Linked DNA regions of Homo sapiens. The protein of the gene in region 3 interacts with the protein of the main gene of each other region in a pairwise test. Each region holds a gene or a part of one and is shown on either strand. Other genes may lie near its edges.

The links.
Region 1: the proteins of PRKD2 (region 3) and MTF2 interact in a two-hybrid assay, tested with the Homo sapiens proteins (one large-scale study listed by BioGRID and IntAct).
Region 2: the proteins of PRKD2 (region 3) and RRBP1 interact in a two-hybrid assay, tested with the Homo sapiens proteins (one large-scale study listed by BioGRID and IntAct).
Region 4: the proteins of PRKD2 (region 3) and RARB interact in a two-hybrid assay, tested with the Homo sapiens proteins (one large-scale study listed by BioGRID and IntAct).

Annotation. Positions count from the first base shown.
Region 1 is NC_000001.11:93,134,783-93,138,282, reverse strand, and holds part of MTF2 (metal-response element-binding transcription factor 2), read right to left. Parts: intron 1,614-3,500; coding exon 1,256-1,613; 3' UTR 1-1,255. UniProt on the Homo sapiens protein: Polycomb group (PcG) protein that specifically binds histone H3 trimethylated at 'Lys-36' (H3K36me3) and recruits the PRC2 complex, thus enhancing PRC2 H3K27me3 methylation activity.
Region 2 is NC_000020.11:17,679,443-17,683,739, forward strand, and holds the start of RRBP1 (ribosome-binding protein 1), read right to left. Parts: upstream 2,801-4,297; 5' UTR 2,586-2,800; intron 634-2,585; 5' UTR 557-633; intron 1-556. UniProt on the Homo sapiens protein: Acts as a ribosome receptor and mediates interaction between the ribosome and the endoplasmic reticulum membrane.
Region 3 is NC_000019.10:46,700,115-46,703,614, forward strand, and holds part of PRKD2 (serine/threonine-protein kinase D2), read right to left. Parts: intron 999-3,500; coding exon 921-998; intron 839-920; coding exon 685-838; intron 1-684.
Region 4 is NC_000003.12:25,427,051-25,431,062, reverse strand, and holds the start of RARB (retinoic acid receptor beta), read right to left. Parts: upstream 2,801-4,012; 5' UTR 2,542-2,800; coding exon of another isoform or gene 2,532-2,541; 5' UTR 2,332-2,531; coding exon 2,175-2,331; intron 1-2,174. UniProt on the Homo sapiens protein: Receptor for retinoic acid. Retinoic acid receptors bind as heterodimers to their target response elements in response to their ligands, all-trans or 9-cis retinoic acid, and regulate gene expression in various biological processes.

The DNA.
Region 1 (3,500 bases), on a different chromosome or scaffold from region 3:
TAAAACAAAACAAAAAGAAACAGAAGACAACTGTAACACTGGTGATAAAAGAAACTTTTTTTTTACAAGTAAAATAAAGTTATCAATTTAAATCTTGGTACACTTTATAAAAACAAGAGGTAATGTTGTAATAAAACAGCAGTAGCCTCAGCTGGCAACATACTGTTTGTTAACCCTGTGCAATAAAATACTTTGTTCATACTACACTTATTCAAACATGACTAACAGTTACTACAGACATTTCAGGAATCTTCACGGGACTCCTATAGACTTACTGTTAAAAATGAGAGACATTTACAATCATAATGTGCCATGAAAACTTGAAAACGTTACTTCTAGTAGGAGATAATGTTCATATTATTTGAATTTGTTTTAGGTACTGAACAGCTGAGTTACAAGGACTAAAAGTGAAAAGCATTCTAAAAGCCCATGAACACTGTTGTTCACACCCTTCTTCAGAACACACTAAACTTGTCTGACACATTTCTCTTCATACATAGCAAGCAACAGCACCCAATAAAAGCCTGAGAAGAAATGCTGCTGTGTAAATACTGCAACTATTCCTGAAAAAAGAATTATGGGATATATACTCCAAAGCTGCCCATTCCCATAATTTGTATTGCATAGGTCACATAATCACACACATATATATACACGTGTGTATATATATGCACATGCAAGAATATATTAAGACGACAATGAAGTCTAGTCACAGAGCAATTTACAGGCTCAATATATTTTTTTACACTTTGCTTGAAAGAAAATTTCAATATTTTACAGTCTTTCAGTAGGCATTATATACACTGCACTTTATGAAATCTAAAAGGTATTGAAATAAATTTTTCCAACATTTTGGTAACAAAACAAACAACGTTTCTCCAAATACTTGTGCTATCTACATGATGTTTGCTCTGATAATCACTAATCACAAAAAACTGACTCAATGGAATAATTAGAAAAATTGTCTAACACCATGCATGGGTTTCAATCATTTTTAATATCCTATCCTAGAAACATTCTACAAATCTTAAGATTTAAAAAATTAAGTCTCTGTTCTGATTTTTAAAAGATACCTTTTTATGACAATATCCATAACATTGACAGGTACATGTTAAGGCTAGTATCATCCCCTTTTTTGAATTTTTTTGACTTTTTTTTTTTTTTAAGAAAGATAGTAAAAGCCAGACTCCTTTAGGGCTTTGAACTGTACCTACAGAAAATCAGAGTGCAGTGAACATAATGTTCAGTCCTACAGTCAGGATGCAGTTGCTCCTTCCCATTCCACAAGATACTGCACCTTTCCATCAAGTGTCACCCGACGTGCCAAAACTCGGTATTTTTCGCCACATGCTATTCTACCTGCAGCACCAAAATAACTGGTAATGGAGTTCTTTAGATGATTGAGTTGTAACTCCTGATCTGCTAAGTTATTCAGAATCTCTGTGTTGAGTTCATCAAACTGATAATCTTCTTTGCCTTCATCATCTTTTACAATTTCTGAGTTCTGAGTCTGGAGTGCTCTTCTTGGAAGACGACCTCTTCTTCTCCGCAAATGTGGTATTGCAGCAGGCCAAGATCTTCCTGTACGCGTTCTTTTTCTGGAGTCAGATAATCTATGTAACAGAGAAGGCCAGAATTGTCTACTGAGCTTTTTTAGCATCCTATGCCCATACAATATGTTCTCTTTTCTGGATTACTCTACTATACCATATATCCTTGATGATATAAAAATGAGCCAAACCCAAACAATAAATGCTATATAAATGGACTATCACTTGGGCTCATTACTTTAGATTTTGTCACGTTCTTGGAGCTGAACTTTGTGGAGCTTTTCTTCCTTAACTACTAGTAAGTTTAGGGTAATTTTTTTACTTAGGAGGCCAACAAGGAAAATTCTTACGAAGAGGCCCTACTCATAAATCAGGTATTGCCAATAATCACATCATTTAAAAGAGCTCATTCATTTGTTCATTAGAACAAATAATTAATGAGCACAAACTACATCTATGACACTGCTCCATGTCCTTAAAGAGTGGAACTAGAATAGAGGTTCTCTTATTACCAGTTCTAGGCCTAGTGAAGTAATACACCAGAATCAGAATAAGCACAAACTAGCAGTCAGAGTATCCTGGGTCTATCCCTAACTCTATTACTTGGCCAAATTCAAATCTCAATCTCTATGTTCATGAACTTAATGAGTGAAGGGGTTAGACTGGATAATGTGTGAGGTCCTTTTCAGCACAGAAATTCAATTATTTTATGATTTTATAATAAAAGGAGAATATAGTACAACAACTAAATTGAAAGACCTACAGTCATACTGTATAAGTTAACAACCCAGCTCTGTTATACTTGCTAAACATGCAATGTTGGGCTTGTTACTTAAAATCCCCTAAGTCTCACTTTCCTCATCTGTAAAATGAGAACAACAGGACTTACACAACTCAAAAAATTGTTCTCTTTTGTTTGTTTGAGACAAGGTCTCACTCTGTTGCCCAGGCTGGAGTGCAGTGGCACAATCATGGCTCACAGGAGCCCTGACCTCCTGGGCTCAAGTAATCCTCCGCCTCAGCTTCCTGATTATCTAGGACTACAGACACCAATACCACGCCCAGATAATTTTTTTCTTTTGTAGGGATGGGGTCTCATCTCAAACTCTTGCCTCAAGCAATCTTCCCACCTTGGCCTCCCAAAGTGCTGGGATTATAGGCATAAGCCACCACACCCAGCCAAAAAATTGTTTTAAGAATTAAATAAGACAATATTTGTAAAAAGCTTAGCAGAGTATCTAGTAAGAGGCCCCAAAAAAGTCGATTATTCAGAATTCATTAATAAATGGGTTACACTTTAAGCATTTAATGTAGAATTTTGCATAATTTATAACAGCAGTTTTCGAATTATGAACAAAATTTAAACAGAATGAAGTATAAAACTTGAAAATAGTAGCTCTGACCCCAAATAGATTAACCTTTTCATACCTGACATGATGTGCTTTAGAGAAAAGTTGTCCTGGCCAGGCAAAGTGGCTCACGCCTGTAATCCCGGCACTTTGGGAGGCCGAGGCAGGTGGATCACTTGAGATTAGGAGTTCAAGACCTGCCTGGCCAACATGGTGAAACCCCATCTCTATTAAAAATACAAAAAGTTAGCTGGGCATGGTGGCGCACGCCTGTAAATCCCAGCTACATGAGAGGCTGAGGTGCCAGAATTGCTTGAATCCAGGAGGCGGAGGTTGCAGTGAGTCGATATCATGCCACTGTACTCCAGCCTGGGTGACAGAGCGAGACTCCATCTCAAAAAAAAATAAACAATAAACAAAAACGTTGTCCTTCTGAAGGGCTGGATTAAATAAGATATCAGAGGGGAGTCTGCTATTGATGAAAATCTTAAGTTTAAAATCATTTTATGGACAAAAGGATTTAGGTGTCTGATTTTTTTTTTTTTTTTTAATCAAATCTTGGCCAGCTGTAGTGGCTCAGGCGTGTAATCCCAGCACTTGA
Region 2 (4,297 bases), on a different chromosome or scaffold from region 3:
AAACAAGATTTTAGCAAAGAAAAACTTGCTGTCTCAACAGAACTGTTGATCCTCTATGTGTCATTCATCTATTAGTTAAAATTCCCAGGGCTAAAAAGACAAGAAGAGTCTGGGGTCCCGACACTTTTAAAAGGTGTCCCTGCTACATAATAAATCAATACTCCAATTCAATCACTGGCATTCAACCATTTAAACTGAGTTTGCTGCTATGTAATTATTGCAGCCTGTTGAGTTAGGGCTCATTTCATTAAAGAGCATAATTGCTCAAATGTGACTTGATTTAAGATTTATTTAAAACTCTTCCATCACCAAAAAATACTCATATACCATGAACCACTGTAACTTCTTAATCTCTCTGTAAATGTTCAGAGGCAGATTCCTAAGTATGAAAGGTGAGAGTTGTTATAGTGCCTAGAGCTCTAAACCCTCTCCTAAACCCCAAGATCCCTTTCTGGTTTCCCCTCCCCCAACCTTAGCCTCCTCCAGGCCTCCACTGGCCCAAGATCCCTGCAAGCCGGCTTTGCGGTGCTCCATGTAAAAGGAAAACTTCACCTACTAGGAGGTCTGCCCCGGCCTTTGCTTCAACAGAGAGGGAAATGGCACCTCCAGGACCTCAGAACCGGAAGCTTCTTTCTGGAAGGGAAAGAGGTTGGCATATGATAGTGGGAGTGACCTTTGGCAAGTTCGTAAACGAGTCAAGACATCACACAGTAAGTGACATGCTGCAGGGTCACAGATTTCTCTAGGTGTCGGATTAACAGGAAGTTAAATCAAACAAGGAGTGTGAGGAGGGAGGCGGGGCAGTGGGAGAATGCCCCCCAGCTGCACAGGGCGGGGTAACATTCGCAGTTGTTCTTCCTGGGAGTGCCAGACAGACGTCCTGGGTCTCTGGGGACACCCAGTTCTGAAGAGGTATCTAATGTGAGATATGAGGCCCTACCAGGCCCATTTCTCCAAATTCCTGAAAATGCCATCCAGATGGCCCCTACCCTGAAGGTTCCAGCACGCAGAGTGAATAGCTGAGCAGTGACGTGGGAGGCTCCTCAGGTCCCTCAGAGTTTCATTTCCTTGGTGCTTCCCAGTCTCTCCTAACCTCTGACCTCTCAGAGTAATTGCCAAATTGCCTTCTGTTTGTACAAGGTCCCAGCACTTCCCGGCGTGGTTCCCGACCCTGTGAGTGGGTGGTGCTGTCTTCAGGCCACAGATAAGAAACTAGGATTCAGAGGGGCTATGGGACCTGCGAGTAGGCGGCCAGTACGTGGTCCGGGGTGTAGAACCCCGGCTGTGCAACTTCTGCAGCCCCGCGCCCGCCGCAGTGCCGGAGCCAGGCCCCACCTTCCTCCCGTGTCCAGCACCCCCCAACAAAAGCATCCCAACTGAACAGCCAACACTTGTGGCTCCTTCCTACAAGTGCTGGGTCTCCACAGCTTTCCTCGCAAATCGAAGCTAACAGGAGCCCCGATTTGCAGACCAGGAAATGGAGACCCCGAACGAAACAACTTGGTCGGGGTCACCCTCGCCAGCCGGGGCACTCTAGAGCTAAAACTCGCGACTTATCATTCGGAGAGGGGTCCCTGAAGCACTGCGGGCGCCCCACTGGAAGCGCAGACCCCGGCCTGCCTCCCCTAATCAGGGCGCAGCGGGAGAGCCGGCCGGGCCGGGGCGGGCACCAGGCCGGGTGCCAGCGCGCTTGGCCGGCCCGGAGGTGTCCGCTTCCGCCCGGGGCTGGCACCGCCGGCCCATTCATCGTGGCCGCGGGCGGGGCGGGCCGGGCCCCGGGCGCCCTCGTCCCCCCGCCGGGAGCCCTCGAGCCAGGCTCCGCGCAGCCCAGCCGGGGAAACGGTGGCCCCGGCCCCGCCGCCAGGGGGAGCAGGGAGCCGCCTCCCGCACTCCGGGAAGTTGCCACCGCGGCCGCCCGGCGTCCGTGCCATGGACAGACCCGGTCCCTGCGCCGCGAGCCCTGCGGCCCCGGCCCGCCCCGTCGGGGGCCGTCCCAGCCCCGCGAAGCGCCAGCGGGCCGCGGCCCGGGACCGGCGCGCTCGGCCCGTGGGCCCCCATTCAATCCCGCCCTCCTCCCCTCGGCCGGCCTCCGCCGCCTTCCGCCCGCACCCCACCCCTCCGGCCCGGACTCCAGCCCGGCAACGTCATCCGGCGGCTTCCCGAAACTTAACCCCTTCCTCCGCCAGCTGTGCGCCGCCCCGCCCCGCCCCGCCGCCAACTTTCTTCGCCCAACTTCGGAGCGCGCTGGCCGGCCCGACGGCCCTGCCGGGAGGGAGGGAGGCAGGGAGCGGTCGCCACGTCGCGCCCGTCTGCCGCCGCAGCTCCCCGGACGGCGAGGGCCGCGGGGTCCACACCACGGGGCGCGCCCTGCCTACGCCCCGGTACGGCGCTTGCCCGGCACCCCCGCCCCGAGTCCGACCCCGACCCCGATGGTGCACGGCCGCGGCGGCAGGCGGCGGGCGGCGGGCGGGCCGGGGGAGGGGCCGCCGAGGAGACGTGTCACTCGCGGCGCAGCGCGGCCGGCCCCGGCCCCCCGACGGCCCGGCCCGCGCGCGGCCGCTGCAGGGCCCGGCCAAGTTTCTTACCTGCAGCCAGAGACGCGAGAGGGAAAGCGAGAGGGCAGGAGCCGCCGCCTTCGCAGCCGCCGCGGAGCCGGGAGAGAGGAGCCGGCCAAGCCTCCGCCAAGAAACCGCCCCCGAGCAGCTGTAGACGCTGCGACCCTGACGCCGCCCGCCCCGTCTGCCGTCCGCTCCGGCCGCTCGCTGGCTGCGTGCGCGCGTGTGGAGTCGTGGCACTTTCTGCCTCAGAGCTGGCGAACGGCCCCCTCCGCCGGGATCGCCGCCTCCTGCCTTCCCCACCCGGGCCAGCCATTCATCGAGCCGCCTCTTCCCATTGGTCCGCACCCCGCCACTCTGCCGGTCGCTGGCCAGTCAGGACGCGGGTGGCCGAGCCGCGGCGGCGGCCATTGGGCAGAGAGGAGGGTCTCCACCTCGGCCAATGGGAGAGGGGAGGAGCTGCGGGGAGGTGAAGGGGGCAGGGCTGGGGAGAGGCGGGGCCGAGCGGCGCGGCGCTCGGCCGTGCGCGGGGCGGGGCGGAGCAGGAACGCCCCGCCCACCGAGGGGGGGGTCTCCGGCCAGCTCCGCCCACTCTGGGCCCGCGGCGCTCCCAGCAGTCTCTGACTAGGATCCGGCTCTGCCTAGGCGGGAAGCAGAAGGTTCGGGTCCCGGCGACCCCGGGCCTGCGCCTCTGGATACCGCTGGGCTGACATGGCGGTGGCTGAACAGGGTTGCGCAACCGCGAACAGCCAAGGAAGCTGCTTTATTTAAACCCAACTAACTTCCCCCGAAGCAGCGCCCCCTCGGGCCGCCGGGTATGAGGACAAGCTCTGCTGGGGGTCAGCCCAGGGAGAGCAAGTTCTTATCATCAAAGAGATTGCAATCAGCACCAGAAGGAATTTCCTTCAGTAAATGGAGGAATTGGGGTGGAAGAGCCAGAAGGTGCACGAGGAATTGAAGCGGATGTCATCGCCCTCGTTGTTAGGGAGGGTACAACTGAGGCACGGTCTATTTAAGATACTCAACCAAATCACAGCCGGCAGAGCAATAATTACAATCCACTCTGTGGCGTTTTATTCCATGCGTTGGGGAAGGTGAGAGGTTCTAACCTAAGAAAACTCATCCGTGTCCCACAAAACGGAGCAACTGGTACTTCCTCATTCCCTGACTTTCTCCCCAATATCAGCCAACACTCAGTCTTCATAATTAGTCAAGTCTTTAAATTAAAATAATTTTAGGCTTGATTTTTAACCATTATGTCAGCGTCTCTTAAAGCCAACCCTTTGAACTTGAGCCAAAGCCAGCTTCTTTGGAATTTTGGATTCTGAGCGACCAAAGGCTGCCTAGACTGCCCCCCATCACTTCCCTAGCTCCTGTTGCTGCAGAATCCCGTGCCTAACATCTATTTCTTGGACAATTTTCAATCTTCCCTGTCCCCATTTGTCACTAGTACTGTACTAGCTGTTGTTAGAAAGATGTGAAAAATACAAGCCTTCATGGGGAATAAAGAGCGATTGGGTTGAAATTAAACTGTTCATTCCTATTTTTAATCTTGGCGGTTCCTTAGCCCATTAATGATTAATCAGCAGGAATTAACCTGGATTAACTCTGGAACACTCAGTCATTTTCCAGCAGTGAGACCCGGCTTCAAATGAAAGTCAAGAATCCCAGCTTCTGGCTGGCAATTGCTACCAATGAGTCCTACTTGACCAGGGCTGGGCCATCTAACCTTTCTGAACATG
Region 3 (3,500 bases):
AGTCCCAGCTACTTGGGAGGCTGAGGCAGGAGAATCGCTTGAACCCAGGAGACAGAGGTTGCAATGAACTGAAATTGCATCACTGCACTCCAGCCTGGGCAACAAGAGCGAAACGCCGTCTAAAATTAGCCAGGGATAGCAGTGCATCCCTGTAGTCCCAGATACTCGGGAGGCTGAGGCAGGAGGATCACCTGAGCCCAGGAGTTTGAGGTTACAGTGAGCCACAATCACACCACTGCACTCCAGTGGGCAACAAAGCAAGACCCTTTGGGAGGCTGAGGCGGGTGGATCACTTGAGCTCAGGAGTCAGGAGTTCAAGACCAGCCTGGGCAACATAGGGTAGACCCTGTCTCTACAGAAATACAAAAATTAGCTGGGTGTGGTGGACGAGCCTGTGGTCCCAGCTACTCGAGAGGCTAAGGTGGCAGGATCGCTTGAGCCCAGGTGGTCGAGGCTGCAGTGAGTCAAGACTGCACCACTGCACCAGCCTGGGCGACAGACCGAGACCCTGTCTCAAACAAAAAATTATTTAAAAAAAATTGTAGTGCTTTAAAAGGTTTGCCTCAGGAACTGGGAAAATTTATAAATATGAGGTGATGTCAGCCCATTGTAGAGAAAAAGAAATTGAGGTTCACTGTGCAGGAGGGTCTTCCCCCAGGGTCTCTTGGAGGGTTCTGTGTATACCTCTGGGCCTTGCCTCCCTCGCCTTCCTCCTCCTCACTGGCGTGGAGCGCATTCTCTGAGTGGGAGCCAGGGATGACACCGGAGTCCTCTGACTCATCCATGAGGGCGCTCTTGTCAGCCTCGCTGAAATCGGTGGCCTCCTCCATCGGCACATCTGTGGGGACGGAGGCATCAGAGGGGTCTCCACCCAGTCCTGCCCCTTCCCCTTTCTCCCCAGCATCCCCCCAGCCTCTCACCTCCATTGATAAGGGCCTCCCCCAGGCAGTCATTAGGGACGCGGGTGGCGCAGCGTTTGTGACAGTTAAACTTGCAGTCTGGTAGGACAGGGAACAAGGGAACGGGTGAGAAGGGGAAGAGAGGTTACCTGGAAGGCTTGAACCTTGACCCTAAGCCTCAGGCTCAAAAGAGTCTACTCTTGCTGTCTGGGTAAGAACACTGGCTGCTGCTGCCCTGGTCATTTTCCCACTTTCAGCCACAGTTTTCCCAACCATCGGGGGGGTCTTGATTAAGTAGGAGGGCTAGACTCAAAATCCCGACGACTGCTGGGTGCAGTGGCTCCCGCCTGTAATCTCGGTATTTTGGGAGGCCGGGGAGAGCAGATCATTTGAGGTCAGGAGTTCGAAACCAGCCTGCCCTACATGGTAAAACCTCGTCTCTACTAAAAATACAAAAATTAGCTGGGCGTGGGACTACAGGCGCCCACTACCACGCCCAGCTGATTTTTTTGTGTTTTTAGTAGAGACGGGGTTTCGCCATGTTGGTCAGGCTGGTTTCGCGCTCCTGACCTCAGATGATCCACCTGCCTTGGCCTCCTAAAAGTGCTGGGATTACAGGCGTGAGCCACCGCGCCCGACTTGTGTGTGTGTGTGTGTGTGTGTGTTATTGGTTCTAATGTGCTGTGACTCCAGACTCTGAACACCCTAGGGCTGGGTTCCTCAACCCGTGACACTAACACAGTGCCCAGGATAATTCCTTGTTTTAGGGCACTTGCTCTGTGTATTGTAGGATGTTTAGCTGCATCTCTGACTTCTACCTACTGGATGCCAGTAGCACTATCCCAGCGTACCAAACAAAACCATCTCCAACCCTTGCCAAACATCCCCTAGGAGCAAAACGGCCCCTGGTCGAGAACCATTGCTGTAGAGTTCAGTGTTTCCACGGTTCTAGGGACACTATACATCGAAGATTCTAGAGTTTACTAAAAACCTATTTTATGAAGGTTCTATGATTCTGTTTTTTGTTTTTTTTTTTTTTTTTTAAGAAACAGTCTGGCTGTCACCCAGACTAGAGTGTGCAATGGCACCATCTCGGCTCACTGCAACCTCTGCCTCCCAGGCTCAAGCGATCTTCCCACCTCAGCCTCCTGAGTAGCTGAAACTACAGGCACGCACTACCATGCCTGGCTAATTTTTCGTATTTTTTGTAGAGATGGGGTCTTTCCATGTTGTACAAGCTGGTCTTGAACTCCTGGGCTCAAGCAATCCACCCACCTAAGCCTCCCAAAGTGCTGGGATTACAGGTGTGAGCTACTGCCCCTGACCTGATTCCGTATTTCTAAGGCTTCAGAGTTTGATGTCCAAGTTTCTAGAACTCTAGACATCTATGAGTCAACACTTCTAAGACTCTTTAATGTCCAAGATTTTAGGGTGTTATATATCTAAACTCTAAAATTTGACAGTTCTAGGGTTCTACAATTCTAGGCTTCTCTACCTCCAGAATCTGCAGATTCCAAGGTTCTAGGATTCTATACATACAAGATTCTAGAATTTGATGTTTCTATGCTTCTTTAGCTCTAGGCTTCTAAGATTCTAGAATTTGATTGTTCCAGTAAATTCTTGAATTGGATGTTTCTAAGTTTATGTGGATCTAGGCTTCTGAGGTTCTAGAATTTTTTTTTTTCTTTTTTTGAGACAAGTTCTTGCTCTGTCACCCAGGCTGGAATGCAGTGGCACAATCATGGCTCACTGCAGCCTCAACCTCCTGGGCTCAAGCAATCCTCCCTCCTCAGAGTCCCAAGTAGCTGGAACCACAGATGCATGCTGCCATGCCTGGCTAATTTTTAATTTTTTTTGTAGAGACAGGGTTTCACCATGTTGCCCAGGCTGGTCTTAAACTCCTAGGCTCAAGTGATCCACCTACCTTGGCCTCCCAAAGTGCTGAGATTACATGCATGAGCCACCACACCTGGCTGGATTCTAGAATTTGATTGTTCAAAGTTCTGGGAGTCTAGAATTTCCAGGATTCTAGGTTACGATGGTTTCAAGCTTATATGATTCTAGACGTCTAAGACTCTCAAATTTGATGTGCCTATGTTTCTATTACCCTCAAATCCCATGGTTCCAAAATTCTCATGCTCTGAGAGTCTATAACTTGGGAGATCTAAGATGTGTAATCTAAAGTTCTGTTGTTATTTTAGCTGAATTCTATCATTCGGAATTCTTGAATGCTATGGTTCTGATTCTAGAATTCTCAGGTTCTACAGTTTTAGAATTCCATGCTAAGCACGTTATGAATCTAGGATTCCAAGGTTCTAAAGACTGAGGTTCAGCTGGGCGCGGTGGCTCACACCTGTAATCCCAGCACTTTGGGAGGCCGAGGTAGGAGGATTGCTTGAGCCCAGGAGTTCAAGACCAGCCTGAACAATATAGTGATACCTTCTCTCTACAAATGATTTAAAAATTAGCTGGGTGTGGCCAGGCGCGGTGGCTCACGCCTGTAATCCCGGCATTTTGGGAGGTCGAGGCAGGTGGATCACAAGGTCAGGAGATCGAGACCATCCTAGCTAACATGGTGAAACCCCGTCTCTACTAAAAATA
Region 4 (4,012 bases), on a different chromosome or scaffold from region 3:
CTGTACCACCCTGAACCAAACACTGCATGGCACAAGACATTTGTTAGAATCTCTAAAAAAAAAAAAAAAAAAAAGTTTTAGTTTTATTTATGCTAAAAAAAAAAAAAAATCGTTGGAACAACTGACCATCATAAAGTGGTTTATGAGGGTAAAGCAACTCTGCAAGGGCACAAGCAATATTTACATTTTATTCATTTAACCTAAAGTTGGGGTGTGGGATTCAAACTCTTGTGAAACTGACCACAATAAGAACTAATTGCCCTGCTTACAAAAATAAGACACTGGAATTTCTGAAATCCCTTTGTCAAATGCCTTTATTTACTTTGTCTAATGCAAGTTTCTTTGATTAGCTAAACTTTGCTGTTATCAACACTTCTTGCTTATCGGGTAGTTTTAGGCGAATGACACATTCACCGCTCGCTCTCCCTAGATAAAGCAAATCCCTTGTTTAACTTGTCCAAGAACAAACAAAGCTTTTCCCCCTACTCTTACAACTTAATAGGCATCTTTGGAAGGTTAATTACAAAAGGAAGAATGTCTACATGTAAAAACTCTATTAGGTCTAATAACTTTTGGCGAGGATCCTGAGCATATTTTTTCCTTCTGTTAAAAAACATGTTTCATTACCACTTTCTCTAACAAGAAAAAGTTTCAGAGAGCCCCAGTTCCCTGGGATTCCAACAGAAATTGTTCATACTGTTTTAATTGCTACAAAGAGGACAGGTCTGAAAAGTCTCTTCTTGGATTAGAAAATTATTTTGTAACACTCCAGTTTCTTTGAGTTCTCCAGAAATAAAATGGGCACCAAAAAAGAAAAGGCATTTGGGGAGCAGCTGAAGATTAAGGCGCCTTCTGAAAACGATATTCTTTTTGCCCTGCTTATGGCTCTACAAAATGTTAAGTCAGACAGCCAGGCTGTTGGCATCAAATGGTTATTGATTTTTCAGCTACAAACCTGTTGATTTCCCGGCCCAAGAAGCAAGTCTTTATTCTTAAGAAAAAGTTTCAGAGAGGGCAATTTAAATCCTGTCATTGTCCCCTCTCCCCTTTTTCTTCTCTCTTTAGATAAGCCACCATGTTATTAGGAAAACTCAATTTCTTCCAGTTAAACTTTGACCTCTTTGAAAACAAAGATTTAAAATGTCATTTTCAGGCTAATGCTCCAATGAATTGTCAAATAAAGTACTAAAAACATTTTGATAGATAGCTGAGCCATTTATCTAAATCACTGTCAGGGCGGCGAAGCATCCTGCAGGCTCCCACTACAGCCACCCGAAGGTGGGATTTTCTGGGACTCCTGATCATTTCTCAAGCCTGCAGCCAGGCTACTGTTGACCAGGTGCGTACCTCGGCACTGTGTCAGCATCAGATAACAAAATAGTCAATATTTTTTTTTTAAATTGGGCTACCCCACTTATATTTCCTTTCCTTTAACTGATGTCCACGTTCCGGGCTGAACTGCAAGATATGGAAATAATGGATGGCTCAGTCCAAGGGGTGTTCATTGCCAGTAGTTTTCTAGCAAAACAGCAACTTCTTAGACCAACAAAGTGACTTGGAAAGGTGGCAGCAGGGTCAATGCTAAGAAATATTGCCTTTCCTTAGCAAGGAAAACATTGGAAGCGGCAGCTTGAACTGGTGGTTTATGAACTTCGGGAGCAGCAGCCACCTTAATTAAACTAAATTCCTTTCAAGGAAAATGTCATATTTTAATTACTTTGGACTGTTGGAATACACAAGGGGTGGGGGGACCTATACAACTAGTAGCTAATCCAAAGAACAGCAAAGTTAAATTCCACTCTGCATACATTTTAGTAAAAACTGCAAAATGTGTCAAATTGCCCTACTTGAAGAATGTTTTAAAGTCTTGTGGTCACCCTCTACTCCCCACCCCCCACATTTTTATGCATATTTTAAAAACTGTTTTCAAGAGACTATAAGGTTGGTAAGGAGAGGAGCATGGGGGCGGGAGGGGTTATTTGGGAAGAAAACATCTAACAGGAAATTTTCAGCAAAGGGAATCAATATGCATGCCAGCATATCACACCCCTTCAGCATTAAATCATTAAATCCTTTGTCTTGCTACCAATGCAGTTTATTTCCAACGTCTTTATTGCATGCAAGAGAGACAATTTTTTTTTTCTTGGTAGAAGAAGGGAAAAAAATAAACCTACATTGAGCAGTGTGCCGATGCTGCCATTCGGTTTGGGTCAATCCACTGAAGCATGCTTTGAGAGCTTTCTCCTGGAGCATGCAGGAAGACGGACTCGCAGTGTAGAAATCCAGGATTTGCCCAGGACTCACTGACAGAACATCCATACAGTCAAACATGATCTCCCTTGCACTGAATGTCTGCAAAAGTGCTTATCCTCTAGGTGTGGAGGCAAATGGCATAGAAAAGTCCACCCAACTCCATCAAACTCTGCCCCTTTTTTGGCACGTAGGCTGTTGGTCTTTTTCCCAGCCCCGAATCATGAATTATGACAGACAAGCCAGCTAAAAGCCTGTAATTGATCCAAATGATCATTTACCATTTTCCAGGCTTGCTCGGCCAATCCAGCCGGGGCGGGGGGTTCCCAGAAAGATCCCAAGTTCTCCTTCCAAGTAAATGCTTGCAAAAAGCCTTCCGAATGCGTTCCGGATCCTACCCCGACGGTGCCCAGACAAACCCTGCTCGGATCGCTCGCGTTCTCGGCATCCCAGTCCTCAAACAGCTCGCATGGGGGAATTCTGGTCCCCCCTTTGGCAAAGAATAGACCCTCCTGCCTCTGAACAGCTCACTTCCTACTACTTCTGTCACACAGAATGAAAGATTGAATTGCCTAATATATGCGAGTGAACTTTCGGTGAACCCTACCCGGGCTGCTAACCTTCAAATGACCCAACTAGTCTGACATCACCAACTCCCAGGATTCTCACAGAGCTTAAAAACTCCCAGCAGCCCTGCAAAAGCAGACAGCCAGAGAGGCAGGCAGCGAGCGCACAAGCCGGCGTTTTCTTTCCTATTTCTCACCTTAAAAACAATACAAGAAGTGCTTTTAAAATGAGCAGGGGAGGAGCCGGGACGCTGCTCCTGGCTCACGTTGAGCACCAACTTCTCTCCCTTTACGCCTTTTTATTTGCGGCGGCTTAGCTTGGAAAACGGTGTTCCGCCTGCGCCCGCTCGCCTCCCGCCCACCGCCTCGCCCCCCAGCCCACACTTTAAATTCCTCTGTGCGCCTTTCTGTCTGTTAAATTCCTTATAACTTATGTATTTTTCCACTCCAGAAAAAGCACATGCAAGCCCTAAACTGTAGAACAGAGAATGGCTACCCCTTGGGAAAGGCTTGGGTTGGGAAACTTTCCATTCCACAGTCTTTTTCTCTTTCTCCCTCTTGCAAGCCCCTGGCTGAATTGACTGCACTCGTTTGCTCTGCAATCCAGCTTTCGAGATTCATTTACTTTGAAAAATCCTCTCCAGGTTCTATGCAGCATATAGAGTAGTCAGGAATTGGTTACCCCTGTCCCAAACACACAGCCACACAGAAAATGAGATTTCAGATCTGGACTTGAAAAAACAGTATAGTGGTCAAGAGCATGGGTTGGGGAATCAAACTGAACTAGATTCCAATTCCAGGTCTGCCACTTACCAGCTGTGTGTTCTGGGATAAGTATTTAACTTCTTCAGGCTTCAGTTTCCTCATCTGTAAAATGGGCATATAATACTACCCACGTCAGTGTTAACTGGGAGGACAGAAATAACACTTGTATGGTGCTGGGTAAATATCATGGAACAAATGTTAGCTGTGACTCATCCTCATACTGTTCAACTGGTGAAACAAAACCCCGGGGAGATGAGACCTACCCAAGGTCACACAGCTCAGAGCTGTGACTAGAACCCAGCTCCCTAGGATGAAAGTCCAATGTGAAAATTACTTGCCTGTTCCCACATCCTTGCACCCCAAATAGCCATGTTGGTTGCCTCTCTCATCATACACCTACACACATCCCACCACATAATTAAACGCATATT